Linked DNA regions of Homo sapiens: region 2 is linked to region 1. Evidence: fine-mapped QTL for protein levels in blood plasma. A gene starts in region 1. The other region holds a variant in brackets. All regions are shown on one strand. Distances are between the middles of the regions. Region 1 holds the start of PHYKPL (5-phosphohydroxy-L-lysine phospho-lyase). Region 2 overlaps PHYKPL (5-phosphohydroxy-L-lysine phospho-lyase).

Evidence for each region. PIP is the chance, under the fine-mapping model, that this variant and not a neighbour inherited with it causes the effect. The UK Biobank Pharma Proteomics Project read protein levels with antibody pairs (Olink). The fine-mapping took linkage between variants from a reference panel, not from the people measured, so its PIPs are less certain.
Region 2: its variant is fine-mapped to the plasma level of the PHYKPL protein (UK Biobank, PIP above 0.99). The variant lies in the coding sequence of PHYKPL. If it changes the protein, the assay may bind it differently, which can mimic a change of level.

Annotation. Positions count from the first base shown.
Region 1 is chr5:178,231,978-178,240,300 of GRCh38, reverse strand. PHYKPL (5-phosphohydroxy-L-lysine phospho-lyase) reads left to right here and starts at 7,499. Exons shown (of 13, transcript NM_153373.4): 1 at 7,499-7,809. The coding sequence starts at 7,751. COL23A1 (collagen type XXIII alpha 1 chain) reads left to right here. Exons shown (of 29, transcript NM_173465.4): 28 at 1,122-1,160; 29 at 1,601-2,683. The coding sequence ends at 1,603. LOC112267937 (a long non-coding RNA gene) reads right to left here and starts at 6,263. Exons shown (of 3, transcript XR_002956238.2): 1 at 5,103-6,263; 2 at 3,701-3,885; 3 at 1,633-3,542. RefSeq lists enhancers at 1,437-1,486, 1,492-2,165, 2,166-2,839, 5,210-5,289, 7,337-7,875 and silencers at 7,265-7,674, 7,755-8,074.
Region 2 is chr5:178,212,167-178,220,489 of GRCh38, reverse strand. PHYKPL (5-phosphohydroxy-L-lysine phospho-lyase) reads left to right here. Exons shown (of 13, transcript NM_153373.4): 9 at 5,060-5,214; 10 at 5,605-5,694; 11 at 7,387-7,517. Among named protein-coding and RNA genes, the nearest start is that of HNRNPAB, 12 kb to the right of the region's middle. RefSeq lists an enhancer at 7,405-7,514. The variant A/G (reference allele first, on the strand shown) is at 7,457.

The DNA.
Region 1 (8,323 bases):
ACACATGGGAATATTCCAGGGGATGCCCAGTGTCTGAGGCTCATTCCTGTGCTTTGGAACAGAATGACATGTTTTGCGCCTTGGTGTCCCTGATGAGTCAGTCTTCGTTCCTCTCCAGTTTCCCCACCCTCCAGGCTGCCTGAGGAAACCCGGCCCCTGCTTATGTCTGGCTCCTGGGTGGGCACCACAGGTGCCGCTAGATAGCCCTACCCCAGGCCCAGCCCCAACCCCCAGCAACCTGAGCCTGCCCTGCTCCAGCCAGCACAGGCTGGAGCAGGATGCCAATTCCTGGGCCATCCTTAAAACCCTCCAGGAGCCATTCCTGCCCAAGGCCTGAAAGCTCGCAGGCCCCAGGGTGAGGAGCCAGAGTGACCGTCACATCAGGCAGGAAGCCACACGGCTCTCAGCAGGACCCAGGCCAGAGTCACTGTCACATCAGACAGGAAGCCACACGGCTCTCGGCAGGACCCAGGCCAGAGTCACTGTCACATCAGGCAGGAAGCCACACGGCTCTCGGCAGGACCCAGGCCAGAGTCACTGTCACATCAGGCAGGAAGCCACACGGCTCTCGGCAGGACCCAGGCCAGAGTCAGTGTCACATCAGGCAGGAAGCCACACGGCTCTCGGCAGGACCCAGGCCAGAGTCAGTGTCACATCAGGCAGGAAGCCACACGGCTCTCGGCAGGACCCAGGCCAGAGTCAGTGTCACATCAGGCAGGAAGCCACACGGCTCTCGGCAGGACCCAGGCCAGAGTCACTGTCACATCAGACAGGAAGCCACACGGCTCTCGGCAGGACCCAGGCCAGCCTGTACATGTCTGGCACAATGCTCATCCCTTCCTAGTGCCCTCCTGTTCCTGCCCACTGCACAGCAGTCCCCACAAAGCACAGAGGGAACACACTCAGGACAAGCTCAGTGAGAGGCCGTCGTTCCCCATGACCCCATGACCCCACTACCTGGGTGGACAGAGGAGGCATTGTGCCCCTGCCTCAGTGGGGCCCAGCAGTCTCACATGGCCGCTCCCTGGCCTGCACCTCCCTACAGACCAGGGGAGGGCATGTGGGGTGTAGAGGAGCTCCCCAGGCCCCATCCCCATCACTGAAACCTTCTTCCTTTCCAGGGCCCCGACGGGCTGCCTGTGCCTGGCTGCTGGCATAAGGTACCGTGCAGGGAAGTCTCCAGGGCAGGCTTGGGAGAGGCAGGGGAGGGTGGGGGAATGGGAGGGCCCCAGAGCCTGGGTGCTGTCACTCAAACCTCTGGGTGTCTGCGGCTTCTCGCACAGTGACTGAATAGCCAGGTTTCCCATCATGACCCTGGTTTTGACTCTCCCATCTTGCATGTGAGGCGTGGGGCTGTGGTCCTGGGTGATGGTGTATAACCCATCCTGTGGGTCACATGGACTCAACTGACACCTGGACCAGGCAGGGCAAAGCCATCAGTGCCCCCTGGGATATTGTCCCAACTGGCCCACTGAGAGGGAGTGGGGGGAGGGAAGATAGGAGGAAATGGGCAGGACCGGGGAGGCCAGGCAAGGTGGCCTGGATGGGGGCGGAGCTTCTCGGGCTCCTCGTCACCTTCAGTCTCTTCCTCCTTTTCCAGTGACCCACAGGCCCAGCTCACACCTGTACAGATCCGTGTGGACATTTTTAATTTTTGTAAAAACAAAACAGTAATATATTGATCTTTTTTCATGGAATGCGCTACCTGTGGCCTTTTAACATTCAAGAGTATGCCCACCCAGCCCCAAAGCCACCGGCATGTGAAGCTGCCGGAAAGTGGACAGGCCAGACCAGGGAGATGTGTACCTGAGGGGCACCCTTGGGCCTGGGCTTTCCCAGGAAGGAGATGAAGGTAGAAGCACCTGGCTCGGGCAAGGCTAGAAAGATGCTACGTTGGGCCTTCAGTCACCTGATCAGCAGAGAGACTCTCAGCTGTGGTACTGCCCTGTAAGAACCTGCCCCCGCAAAACTCTGGAGTCCCTGGGACACACCCTATCCAAGAAGACCCAGGGGTGGAACAGCGGCTGCTGTTGCTCCTGGCCTCATCAGCCTCCAAACTCAACCACAACCAGCTGCCTCTGCAGTTGGACAAGACTTGGCCCCCGGACAAGACTCGCCCAGCACTTGCGGCTGGGCCCGGGGAGCAGTGAGTGGAAATCCCCCACGAGGGTCTAGCTCTACCACATTCAGGAGGCCTCAGGAGGCCAGCCTGCCATGAGAGCACATGTCCTCTGGCCAGGAGTAGTGGCTGAGCTCTGTGATCGCTGTGATGTGGACCCAGCTCCAGGGAGCAGAGTGTCGAGGATGGAGGGGCCCAGCCTGGACTGACTGCTACTTCCTGTCTCTGTTTCCATTATCACCCAGAGAGGGACAAGATAGGACATGGCCTGGACCAGGGAGGCAGGCCTCCCACTCAGAGTCTGGGTCTCACTGGCCCCAAGTCTCCCACCCAGAACTCTGGCCAAAAATGGCTCTCTAGGTGGGCTGTGCAGGCAAAGCAAAGCTCAGGGCTGGTTCCCAGCTGGCCTGAGCAGGGGGCCTGCCACCAGACCCACCCACGCTCTGACGAGAGGCTTTTCCACCTCCAGCAAGTGTTCCCAGCAACCAGCTCCATCCTGGCTGCTTGCCTTCCATTTCCGTGTAGATGGAGATCACTGTGTGTAATAAACCACAAGTGCGTGTCTGGGTGTGCCTGTCCTTGTGGACTGCCCCTGGGGCACCTCTGGCTGTGGTTTCATCCTGGCCACTGCTGGGTGGGGAGGGAAAAGGGGACCCTCCCTGAGTAAGAGCCATCCCAGAAACCAAAGGAGGAAGTTCAGGGTCAGGGCAAAGATGGGATTTGGAGTTCGGAAGACACAGATTCACTGCCTGGTCCTGCCACACATCAGCTGAGTCCTCTGGCAAGTCACTACCTGTCAAATTGAGCCCCTGTGTGCTCCTCTATTGCGGTTAGCAGACTGCTGCATAACAAATCTCTCCAAAACTTGTTGCCTTAAAACAATGGCGATTTTGGCCAGACACAGTGGCTCATTCTTTTAATCCCAATACTTTGGGAGGGCAAGGTGGGAGGATCACTTGAGCCCAGGAGTTCGAGACCAGGCTGGCAGCATGGTGAAACTCCATCTCTACCAAAAGTAAAGAATTAAAAAACATTAGTAGGGTGGGTTGATGTGTGCCTGTGGTCCTAGCTGCTGGGCAGGCTGAAGCGGGAGGACTGCCTGAGCCCAGAAGTTAAAGATCAGCCTGAGCAACATAGAGAAATTCCTCTCTTTAAAAAAAAAGAAAGAAAATCATTTTGATTTCTCTTGTGCAGTCTGTGGTTAATGGGCTCAGTGTGGGTGCTTCTCACTCCGACTCTCACATGGTTGCTTATGGCTATAGCAGGGACCTCAGATGGCAAATACTTATTTGTGGCCTCTCCACGTGACCCAGGCTGCCTCCCACATGGTGGCTGGATTCCAAAAGTGACTGTCCCAGGTCAGCCAGTTGGAAGCTGTGTCACCTTTTAGGGCCAAGTCTCAGAAGTCATGTGGTGTCACTTTCTGAAAGAGTGGAGGGAGGAGAGTTAGACCCCACCTCTCCACGGGAAAGTGTCAACATCATATTTCAAAGAGAAAATGCGGAATCGTAGATCTTGTTGCAGCCCTCTGAAAAAATGCAAACTGCCACCTCAGCTGTGAAACGAGAGGGCACTACTTACCACTCAGATTGTGGTTCCGTGAGGATCCAGTGCAGAGTATGCGAAGAGTATAGGGTGTGTCCCTCACCCAGAAGCACCCTCAATTCTGATTTTCATCTCTCCTCCTGACTCCAAGGCTGCTGAGCAACAGCCACAGTCCTGCAAAGTGTTCCCACTTCTGTCATCACAGCTGGTCCCTATAACAACTAAGAGAGGGACCGTCTTACAGATGACAAAACCAAGCACATCCAGGGTGGTCTAGGCAAGAAGGGCCATGGGCCGGGCGCGGTGGCTCACGCCTATAATCCCAGCACTTGGGGTGGCTGAGGCGGGCAGATTACCTGAGGTTGAGAGTTCGAGACTAGCCTGACCAACACGGAGAAACCCCGTCTCTACTAAAAATACAAAATTAGCTGGGTGGTGCATGCCTGTAATCCTGTAATCCTGTAATGCCTGTAAATTAGGTGGGTGGTGGTGCATGCCTGTAATCCCAGCTACTCGGGAGGCTGAGGCAGAAGAATCGCTTGAAACCAGGAGGTAGAGGTTGTGGTGAGCTGATGTCGCACCATTGCCCTCCAGCCTGGGCAACAAGAGCGAAACTCCGTCTCAAAAAAAAAAAAAAAAAAAAAAAGGGCCTGCAGTGATGGTGTCTCTGATGGTGGTGGTGCATTGCACTGATGGTGTCTGAGTCTCCAAGGACTGAAGCCTAGGGCAGGCCACAGTATGGGTGGTCACCCTCAGACTTCTGTGACATGGCCTTGCTAAGCAGAAGAGGCTCGGCCACACACTGGCTAAGGAGGGAGAGATATATCCAGTCCCCTCCTCTGTCTCCCTAAGGAACTGGCAATAAGTGGAAGGTCACATCGCTCAGCCAGTTGTCTGGGTCAACAGGGAAGCCAGTAGTGGGAAAAGGAAGAGAAACACAGTGGGGCTGTGATGACTGATGGAGGTCACTGGGTGTCCATGCCGCCTCTGGAGTTCCAGCATAACCTCACCATCTGCATGCTACACTTCACAGTTCCCTCCTTCCTCCATCCAGGAACCTCACTTGATCCCCTCACCAGCCCTGCGAAGCCCAGGGCTTGTGTGATAGGTGTCGATATGCCCATTTTACATAGGGGAACACTGAGGCTCAGAGAGGGTAGTCACCTGGCCAGGGATGCACAGCCAGGACATAGTGGCAGGCTTGGGACTGCACCTAGGCTCTTGGGTTTGTCCTCTAATACGTCCTTCTGAAACTTGTCTGGCAGAGCATGGAATCTGATAGGCAGCTCCATGATGCTGTGTGATTGGCAGGTAGATCCTCGTGGGGTAGAAGCCATGTGTTCCCCCCACTTCCCCAGTCTTCTGAGGGGGTCTCTCCTGCTCCTTTAGGCAGGATGGGGCATTCTTGGCCCACTGCTGCCCCCTTGCGGTCTCATACCTTGTATCCCGATGGCTGCAAACGTTTCAACTGCAAGCTTAAAAATGTAGAGTCGGCTGAGTCCTCAAAGTGCCCGGGGAGAGCACAGAGGCGGTAGAGGGTTCAATGATTTGTTCAAGGTCCCAGCCGAGACACTGGGGAGCACCCTGCTTCACAGCTGAGACTCAAGGACTGGGGGGCCTCAGGCCTCCTGCCAAGAAAGGCAGTACAGCCTCAAAGTACCCCTTTCTGGAAGAGAGAGAAGTACATTTACTGAGTCCTGCTGTGTCCCATGACAGCTAAACTAACCACAAGGATGACGATCCCTTTTTATAGATGAATGTGAAGGGGACTTACCAGGTCTCTTTCCTCCTGGTCCCTAGGAGACCACTAGGAATACATGGGATGCTTCTGGTTAGCACAATGATTGCAGGACACCTGGGCATTCAGGGGACAGGGCCAGGGATAGCAAACACCTAAAATGCATAGGACAGTCCTACCCAGTGACAAATCATCTCAACAAGAATCCCGGTGCCAACCCTGTTGAGAAACACCATGCCCTGGGTTCAAATCCTGACTCAGCCACTTCCATCCCCTACCCTCTTGGACTCCAACATTGCCTAGAGGGCCAGGCATGAAATAAAGGACAGATGAGTGCCTGGCACAGGGCCAGAGACAAGGAGTGGGCTTTTCTGAGCAGGAAGAAGGTGAGGCCTCCTGGTGTTCTGTGCCATGCTATAAGATACTCCTGGCCCAGGAAATGGCTCAACCTGGTCTGACCTCCAACTATATCACCTCTTGACCCAGGAGCAGGTGAGATGTTAGCCGGGCCCAGCTACAGCCTTCTCACCCTCTGCCTTAAAGCAGGAAAAGCCCCTGAGCCAACCTGATTCCTCTGAGCTGCACGGGGCCACAGCTGTGGCTGGAGTTTGGGCTGCAAGACAGGGCTGAAAGGCGGGGCCCAAATAGGACTCACACACACACAAATACACACACACACACACGGTCTGTGAGGTCTTGATCCTCAGAAACGAAGTACAGGCTGGGTATGGTGGCGTGCACCTGTAGTAGCAGGTACTTGAGAGGCTGAGATGGGAGGATCACATGATCCCAGGGAGGTAGAGACTGCAATGCTGCACTCCAGCCTGAACAACAGAATAAGACCCTTTCTTTAAAAAAAAAAAAAAATACAGGCCACAAGCAGTTAACCTCGCAGTTAATTTGGGAAGAATTTTTTCCAAAAATCATGTAAAATATTCAATTCAGCTTTACAGTTAAAAATAAGAAATTCCATTCTTTTAGGGAAGATGAAAAAGTCCTGTTGCATGGATGGTGGTGATGGCTGCACGACGATGTGAATGTACTTTTGCCACTGAATTGTATCCTTAAAAATGGTTAAAATGGTAAAATTTTGTTATGTATATTTTACACAATAAAGAAAAAAGAAACTCCAAATGTTCTTTAATAAATGCCTTAAGCGGCCGGGTGCGGTGGCTCACCCGGCCTGTAATCCCAGCACTCTGGGAGGCCGAGGCAGGCAGATCATCTGAGGTCAAGAGTTCAATAAATGCCTTATGCATCTTACAACTGTATTGGGAAGAGAAGAAGAAATCAGCAATGAGGGAGTGAAGCAGAGGCCTGGGAATCATGATGTGGACAGAAAGAAGGGACAATCAGGAGCCTCCCCTGCACCTGCTGCAGTCCCAGGCCCGTGTTCCAGGGTTCTTCAAGGCAGAAAGCCCCAGTGCCTCACCCCAGGAGGGGGCTTTTCTCTCATATCCCAGCCCCTTGGGAGGCTTTTTCTTCTCACTCCCTGGGCTGGGAGTCAAGAAGACCTCAGTAGGAGTCCAGCCTCTGCAGCCTTGCTGCGTGTCTGACAACAAAACCCTTTCCCTTTCTGGGCTTCAGGGTCACCGACATGTACCACAAGGAGGATTCCCAACCTCTCTTCTTGCCCAAACGCTGCATGATTCTCTCAGCGACGATACAGCTCGTCCGGTTCACCCTGCCTAGATTCTAGCAGGAACTATGGTGCCCTGAAGGTCAAGCCCATGGTGATCTCCTTGGTCAGCCCCAGAAGGGACCCTGGGCTCTCCTTCTGCTCTTCCTGCTGCCCCTTCATGGGGCTGGGAAAACCTAGGACCTGCTTCTCCCACCCTGAGGCCCCTACTGTGTACCAGGCCCGGGTAAGGTACCAGTCACATACTCGCACTTAGGCCTCACAGTTCATCCCATTTTATGCACAAGGCGACTCAAAGACTGAGTCTGGCCCAGAGAAGGCCTGCAGGAGCTCCGAGCCCCGCCTGGGCGCCGGGAGCAGGGGCGGGGTCGTCCGGGACCCTTTCCCGGAAGGGAGGCCGCAGGGGCCTGCGGGGCGGGGCCTGCGGGGCGAGGCCCGGGGCGCGTCCCGGAACCAGAGACGGGGCAGCGCTCGAGTTCCTGCGCGGGACTGCCAAGGCACGACCACGGGCCGGAAGGCTGCCAGGCCCAGTGGGCAAGCGAAGAAATGAACCACCGCAACGCGGGCGCTTCGGGGCGGGGCCGAGTGCGAACCTGAGCCCCAAATCCCGACCCAGGCAGGGGCGGGGCCCGGAGCGGGGCCTTGGAGGCCCAGCCCGCGCGGCGACGTCTCCGCGTGGCGTCACGGCACCGACTGACGGCCACCCACCATGGCCGCAGACCAGCGCCCGAAGGCCGACACGCTGGCCCTGAGGCAACGGCTCATCAGGTACCCGGGCGGGGGGCGGGCGGCGGGGGGCGCGGGGCTGCGCGGAGAGGCACGCGCACGCACGACGCACGCACGCACGCACTACGCACGCGCCTCCGGCTAGGAAGCCGCTGCTACCCATCCCGTCCGGCCGCTGCCCCGGCCCCGCTGGAGCTTCTAGGGCCCGAGGCGGGCGGCGCCGTTGGGCAGTCCCGGCGGGTGGTCTCCGGGGCCGCCTCCCCGACAGCGCCGTCTCCAGGCCGCCCAGTTCAGGAGACGGCCCCGCCCTCACCGCTGTTCGGCTGTGTCAGCCTCGCTTGGCAGCCTTTACTCCGGAGAAGACCTTCACCCTGGCGCCTGAGAGGACCTCACCCAGGGTGGCCCGTCAGCAGCACCTGGGCCTGGCTCGAGAGTGACCTGGGAGGGGGCTGAAAGGGCAGACAAGGGAGAGTCGGGGGAGTCGGTTCACAGGCAGCACACTTGACCTGTGAGGGGGCCCTCGGTGGGACGGTGGGTGAGGTCGCCTCCCACTGGA
Region 2 (8,323 bases), 20 kb after region 1:
GAGTTTCACTCTTGTTGCCCAGGCTGGAGTGCTGTGGCGCGATCTCGGCTCACTGCAACCTCTGCCTCCTGGGTTCAAGCAACTCTCCTGCCTCAACCTCCCCAGTAGCTGGGATTACAGGCATGCGCCACACCTGGGTAATTTTGTATTTTTAGTAGAGATGGGGTTTCTCCATGTTGGTCAGGCTGCTCTTGAACTCCTGACCTCAGGTAATCCGCCCGCCTCAGCCTCCCAAAGCACTGGGATTACAGGCATGAGCCACTGCATCCGGCATTCTTTTTTTTTTTTTTTTTTTGAAACGGGGTCTCACTCTGTCACCCAGGCTGGAGTGCAGTGACGCGATCTCAGCTCACTGCAGCCTTTACTTCCAGAGCTCAAGTGATCCCCCCACTTCAGCCTGCCAAGTACCTGGGACCACCGGTGCATGCTACCATGCCCAGCTAATTTTTTGTATTTTTGGTACAGATGGAGTTTCACCATGTTGCCCAGGCTGGTCTCAAACTCCTGAGCTCAAGCGATCGGCCCACCTCGGCCTCCCAAAATGCTGGGATTACAAGGCATGAGCCACTGCACCCGGCCTATATCTTCTTCAGTGCCTTTTAATTTTTGCCAGTCAAGTGGAGCGTAAAACAGTAGCTTGTATGGTCTTGATATGCCATTCCCTGATTTCAGATTACGTGAAGTATCTCTTCATATGTTTATTGACCATTTGTTTGCTCTTCAATGAAATGCCCATTTGTGGTCGGGTGCGGTGGCTCACGCCTGTAATCCCAGCACTTTGGGAAGCCGAGGTGGGCAGATCACGAGGTCAGGAGATCGAGACCATCCTGGCTAACACGGTGAAACCCCATCTCTACTGAAAAATAGAAAAAATTAGCCGGGCGTGGTGGCGGGCACCTGTAGTCCCAGCTACTCGGGAGGCTGAGGCAGGAGAATGGCGTGAACCCGGGAGGCGGAGCTTGCAGTGAGCCGAGATTGCGCCACTGCACTCCAGCCTGGGCGACAGAGACTCCATCTCAAAGAAAAAAAAAAAAAAATGCCTATTTGTGTCTTTTGTGTCTTTTGCCCATTTTTTTTTTATTGAGTTACCAGTGCTTAATTTTATTTGTGGGAGTTTTGTGTCTGTTTGTATGTGTGTGTGTCTGTGTGTGTGTGTATATACCAACACATACATATCTATTATGCTAATCCCTTGTCTATTGTGTATTTGTGAATATGTTCATCCAGTTTATAACCTGTCTTCACTCCCTTTACATATTTATAAAGTTTTAAATTTTAACATTGTCAACTCTTATCATTTTGTTTTATAGACGGTGTTTTTCATATATTGTTTAAGATATCTCTCCCTACTCCAAGTTATAAAATATATTCATTTATGTTTCCTCTTAAGTCTTTTAACATTTTGTTTTGACATATAGGTCCTTAATCCATCTGGAGTTTATTTTTGTACACGATGTGAATCAGGAATCCAATTACATCCTTTGTGCATGTCATACTACAGTGTTTTCCTTTACTTTTTTTTGTTTTTTGAGACGGAGTCTTGCTCTGTTTTCAGGAGTAAAATGTTGGCTCAAATTTTTTTCTTATACCTTGGGTTTTGGTAACTGGGTCCTACTAACCTTATAGAATAAATTGGGAAATATTTCTTCTTTTTCTTTTACATAAAATTGGGATGATCTGTCCTTTGAAGGTAAAAACTCACCTATAAAGCCATCTGGGCCTTGTGTTTTGTGGGAAGATATTTAACTGCTGCTTTAACTTCTTTAAAAGTTATGTTTTAGTGAGTTCAAGATGCTATAACTATAACAAAATACCATAGACTGGGTGGGTTATAAACAGATTTCTCACTGTTCTGAAGGCTGCAAATCTAAGATCAGGGCACCAGCATGGTTGGGGTTCTGGTGAGAGTCCTCTTCCGGGTTGCTGACAGCCAGCTTCTCGCTGTACCTCATATTGTCGAAAGGGTGAGCACTCCCTGGGATCTCTTTTAGAAAACCATATTCGCATTCATGAAGGCTCTATTCTTGTGACCTAATAACCTAAAGGCCCCACCTCTTAATACCATCACATTGGAGGTTAGGATTTCAACACATGAATTGGGAGAGACACAAACATTCAATTCACTGCAAGTTACATAGGGTTTTTAACGTTTTCATATTTGTTCTGCCCCTTTCCTCTCCTTCTGGGACAGTCATTTGCATGTTGGTATGCTTGTGTCCTTGGGTCTATATGACTGTTTTTCTTTTCTTTCTTTTTTTTTTTTTTTTTTTTTTGAGACGGAGTTTCGCTCTGTCACCCAGGCTGGAGTGCAGTGGCGCGATCTCGACTCACTGCAAGCTCCGCCTCCCGGGTTCATGCCATTCTCCTGCCTCAGCCTCCCGAGTAGCTGGGACTACAGGCGCCCGCTACCACGCCCGGCTAATTTTTGTATTTTTTAGTAGAGACGGGGTTTCACCGTGTTAGCCAGGATGGTCTCGATCTCCTGACCTCGTGATCCGCCCGTCTCGGCCTCCCAAAGTGCTGGGATTACAGGCGTGAGCCACCGCGCCCAGACATGACTGTTTTTCTTTATTCCTTTTTCTTTCTGGTCTTCAGACTGGACAATCTCAATTGACTTTTTTTTTTTTTTTCTGAGACGGAGTCTCGCTCTGTCGCCCAGGCTGGAGTGCAGTGGTGTGATCTCGGCTCACTGCAAGCTCTGCCTCCCGGGTTCACGCCATTCTCCTGCCTCAGCCTCCCGAGTAGCTGTGATTACAGGCGCCCGCCATGATGCCCAGCTAATCTTTTGTATTTTTAGTACAGACGGGGTTTCACCATGTTAGCCAGGATGGTCTCGATCTCCTGACCTCATGATCCACCCGCCTCAGCCTCCCAAAGTGCGGGGATTACAGGTGTGAGTCACCGCGGCCGGCTGACTTTTTTTTTTTTTTTCACTGATTCTTTCATCTGCCGGCTTAAATCTGCTGTTGCCAGGTGCAGTGGCTCACGCCTGTAATTTCCTAGCACTTTGGGAGGCTGAGGTGGGCGGATCACTTGAGGTCCCGGGTTTAAGACCAGCCTGGCCAACACAGTGAAACTCCGTCTCTACTAAAAATACAAAAATTAGCCAGATGTGGTGGCATGCACCTATAGTCCCAGCTAGTTGGGAGGCTGAAGCACCAGAATCGCCTGAACCTGGGAGGCGGCAGCTGCAGTTTGCTGAGATCGCACCACTGCACTCCATCCTGGGTGACAGCGAGACTGTCTCAAAAAAAAAAAAAAAATCTGTTGAGCCTCTCTAGTAAATGCTTCATTTCATTTATTGTGCTTATCAACTTCAAATTTTCTGATTGATTTTTAATAATTTATCTATCATTAGACTCTGTTTTGGTAAGACATCATTTTCATGCTTTGCTTTCAATTTTTTAAGTATAGTTTCCTTTAGGTCTCTTAACATATTTGGTTTTGGGGTTGTTTCTGTTTGCTTGTTTGGATACAGGGTCTCACTCTGTTGCCCAGGCTGGAGTCTTGGCTCACTGCAGCTTCAGCCTCTGGAGCTCAAGTGATCCTCCTGCCTCACCCCGCAAGCAGCTGGGAGTACACACATGTGCCACCACGCCTGGCTATTTTTATTTTTTGTAGAGATGGGGTTTCACCATGCTGCCCAGGCTGGTCTCGAACTCCTCACCTTAGGCAACTCACCCATCTTGGCCTCCCAAAGTGCTGGGATTACAGGCATGGGCCACTGCACCCAGCTAACATGTTTGTAACATCTGATTTAAAGTCTTTATCCAGTAAGGTCAGTGTCAGCTTCCTCGGGCGCAGTTTGCATTGATTGCTTTTTTTCCTCCCGTGTCTGGGCCATGCTTCTTTGCATGTTTCAGAATTTTGTTAAAAGCTGGACATTTTAAGTAACATAATGTGGCAACTGTGGAAATCATATTCTCCTCCCTCCCCATGGTGGTTCCTTTTTCTTGTTTAATGTCTTTTCTGAACTAATTATGTAAAGTTGTGTTCTTTGTCATGTGTGGCCACTATAGTCTCTGCTTGATTAGCTTAGTGGTCCTCTAACCATTAGATCTCCTTAATTGCCTGGAACCCGTAAGTCACTCAGCCAAGAGTTTATAACTGCCTTAGACTTTACTTCCTCATTCTGCAGAGGCTCAAGGTAGCCAGTGGTGAGAGCTTAGGGCTTTCTAGATCTTACCTGAGCATGCACACAGCACTGGGCATAAGCACATCCCTATGCATATGAATGGCCTTCTAGACTCCCAGGAGTACGTCACAGCCTTTCAAAGCCCCCTGTAGCCATCTCATAGTAACAGAAAGCAGATCAGTGGATGCCTGGGTCCAGTAGTAGCGGGACGGTTGCACAGGAAGTGATGAAAATGTTCTGCAACTTCACTGCGAGGGAGGTTACACAGGTACATACATTTGTCACCTCACGTTGAACTTTATACTTTAAACACAGTTTATATATAAATTATACCTCAACAAAGCTGATGTTTTTAAAGATGTAGTTTAAAAACGAAACAAAAAACGTGGTTTGCAGGAGACACCTTGCTCGTGATCCTCTAAAACACAGGTCTCCACTCAGATACCTGCAGGATGAGGACAGGGTGGGCGAGGGAAAGGAGCCAGAGCCCTCCAGGGGTGTGAAGCAGCTTTTCCTGGGTGGGGCTTGGCGTGCTGCGCTCACTCTCCCTGGAGGAGGAAGTGCCTAATCCAGTCCTCTGGGTCTGGGCCCAGGAGATGGGGCCTTAAAGCCTCTCTTGGTAAAGACTAGCCCTGTGGGAACAAACAGGACACCCTCTCCTCTGATTCTGTATCTTCTAGGGGCTCCTACTGTACTTCAGGGATACCTGACCTGAGTTGCAGTCACATTAGCTCCTGGAAAGCCAGGACAGCCCATGTTGAACCCCACTTACTACTGCTGAGGACTGTGCGCCCTAAGGGGTTTGGGGCCTCTGCTCTTGCCACTGGCCTTGGAACACGTGTGGCAGTTCTTCTGCCTCACCCTCACTCTGGGGCATGGCCCACTCTGCCAGGGCATCTGACATGTTCTTTGTCCCTGGCTCAGTTTGGGGGCAGCCCAGTGTCCTGCGCTGTGGGGCTGGCCGTCCTGAATGTCTTGGAGAAGGAGCAGCTCCAGGATCATGCCACCAGTGTAGGCAGCTTCCTGATGCAGCTCCTCGGGCAGCAAAAAATCAAACATCCCATCGTCGGGGATGTCAGGTGAGGCTCTGGGGGCAGCAGTCACCACCCACCTGCCAAGGCCCAGTGTGGTACCATTTTCTTCACCTCCTAACAACCTGGGATGGTGGGGTTATGTCCGCTCTCAAGAGGAACTGAGACACTGAGAGGTGCTATTGCCCAAAACGGCTCTCCTGGGGAGGAGAAAGCTAGGACATGACCTGATCCCTAGCTACCCCTGAGCCTCTCTCCTCTGTCCACACCAAAGATCTCTCCCAGCCCAGTTATTCCCTGAAACTATTCTCACCACCTTCTGAAGGTGCCTCCTGCACTCAGCCCCCTCAGGAGGCACAGGTAGGAGCCCAGAGGCTGAGGCCAGCACCCTGGCCCCTCAGGCCTGGCCTCCTGAGATGTCGTCACCTTCCCTTGCAGGGGTGTTGGGCTCTTCATTGGTGTGGATCTGATCAAAGATGAGGCCACAAGGACACCAGCAACTGAAGAGGCTGCCTACTTGGTATCAAGGTATTTTCTTCTTGAAACAAGTTGCTTCCTGGAGTAGGAGACACCACAGGTACCTCTTTGCAGGGCCAGTGGAAAGGAGCCTCATCTGTACCCCCAGCACTCTGGGCCACAGACTTGATTGAAAGAGGGCTGGGGCTGGCGGGTGGGGGCAGTTGTTGGGGGACAGCTGATCCTATCAGCTGAGGACAGAGATAAGTGGTGTTAGCAGTTCTGTACCCAGTGCCTGACTACAAAGGCTGCAGATGAGACACAGGCTATTCCCAGACCAGAGCAGCACCTCTGCCTAGAATGCCCAAGCTAGCAGGGCACTCAGACCCAGGAACCCCTAATGCCACCTTGGCCTGGAGAAGGGAAACACCTTCTCTATTCATACCAGGGAGCTGTGGCAGCACTAGACTCAGGGTTCCCATGCCGCACGACAGGTGGTTGGGATGGACAAGACTCCTGCTCCTAAGCTGGGTCGGGGGTGTCTCAGAACTCAGACTCCACCGGTCCCAATGCCCTGGTTTGCTTGTCCTTTCACTTGGACCCCAAGTCCTCAGGACTTCTTCTCCTTCTAGTTGAATTGTTATTCCCTTTTATCTCCATTCCCCAGGCCTACCCCTTCCCCCACGCCCACCATGGAAAGCTCTTCTGGTATTTGACGTGTCCTTATTCAAATTGTGAGACACGCGTGGTATTGATGTAAATCTCTGTGCTGTATTTGAACTTGGCCTTTCCTGGTCCCGCCTTCTCTCTGCTGTCAGTCACATCCCCAGCTTACTCCTACCCCCCTCCCAGGAGCCTCAGGGATTCGGAATGGTCAGGTGGCATGGAAGGAAACAGATCCCAAGTTCAGCCCGTGTCTCACAATACCCTGGGGGTGCTTTTCCAGTTCAGTGAGGAAATGGGTAAGTCACCTGCAGTTACCCTGCTAGGTGGCAAGAGCTAGATCTGGCCCCAGGGCCGTCTAACTCCAAAGTCCAAGCCCTGTTCTTTCTGGCGTGGCCATGGTCAGTGCCAGGAAGACTGGGACAGGAAAATGAAACCAGAAGGCACACTCCCCACCCCCAAGAAATAAAAATAACAAGGTTTACAAAAGAAGGGGAACAATGATCAAAGAATATAAACACAATCATGCAGACCCCTCATCTCAGAGATGAGGTTAGACTGTGGACTAAAAGTGATTATTAGCTACAAATGATGTTAAGATAAAGCCATCTTCCTAAGAATAATTGGACATTTTAAACTGGAATTGTAAGATAACCCGGAAGACAGGGCAGGAAGATGCCTGAAGCTGGTGAGGGGCACGTGGAGCTCATTACACCAACTGCAATGTTGGACATTCTCTATATAAGGAAACAATATACATCACGTAAACCACACAGAAAACCAGAGAATGCAGGTGACTCTTGCAGTCTGGCGTTTCCCTGTGGCCATTCATTCTTGGCTTGGACTGTGGCTCCAGGGTTAGGTGAGGCAAGGTGCCTGTTCTGTGGGGCAGCAGGCTCAGGGCCAGGTGCAGTGCACTCCAAGCAGGCTGCTGTGGGCCAGATGCACAGGACTCTGGGAGAGGTGACCAGTAAAATGACCTGGCAGGAACTGGCCCATGGAAGGCTCTGAGGACAGTGTGGCTGGAGCACTGGACATGAGGCCAAGGCCAGGCTGAGGAAGGCCTTGAAGGCCATGTGAAGGGGTGTCCTGTCCTCACAGGCTGAAGGAGAACTACGTTTTGCTGAGCACTGATGGCCCTGGGAGGAACATCCTGAAGTTTAAGCCCCCA[A/G]TGTGCTTCAGCCTGGACAATGCACGGCAGGTGGTGGCAAAGCTGGATGCCATTCTGACTGGTGAGCTTGAAGCCTGAGCTTGGCCATATCTCTAGAACTCAGCCTGAAGCCAGCAACTAGAGCCTCCTAGCATGGAACAGGGAGGGGACAAGAGTCCAAGAGCAGAGGCACATGTCCTCTGGACAGGGCAGGGAGCAAGAGAGGGTCTTTCATGGCCCAATCTGCTCCTATTCCTGCCTGTACCTAAGAGAGCTTCCTGGGCTGTCAGGAGGTGGAAGGTGAGCCACCACCCAGCCTGCCTGAGCAGGCATCAGATGTATGCAGGACAAAGCAGTACTGGGCCTGAGAAACAGGCCATAAGAACTACAGTGGGAGTTGAGACCCCATTACCGCCAGCCTAGGATGTAGAGATGGCAGGAGTTTCATTCTGTACATGAGACAGGTCACACAAGGCTGCTGGGTGGCTGAAAGATTGGTACCACTGAGGACTGACGGAACTCAAAATGAAAACTCTACCCCACATTCCCCATCACCTAGGATGGTCGTGGTCAACCCAGGGTTCCCCCTAAATCCACTTACAAGGAAATCTCATGGCTGTGTTGCCATTTACAGCTCAGTGAGACCCTAAATAGGCACAGTTGCATCTCACAGTAGAGATCACAACTGCCAGCCAAGCAACCTGTGCCCTCCTACCTCTGGGTGATCACTGCTACCCACAGGTATGCTTAATCCCAGGGCTCTGGAGCTGGGGGAGGCCCATCCCTGCTAGACACAAATTGGAAGTGGTAGGGATATGATGAATAGGAGTGTGTTTGTGGAGAGCAAAGGCTGGCCACAGAACAGGCTTAGGGATCCTGGACAGAGCC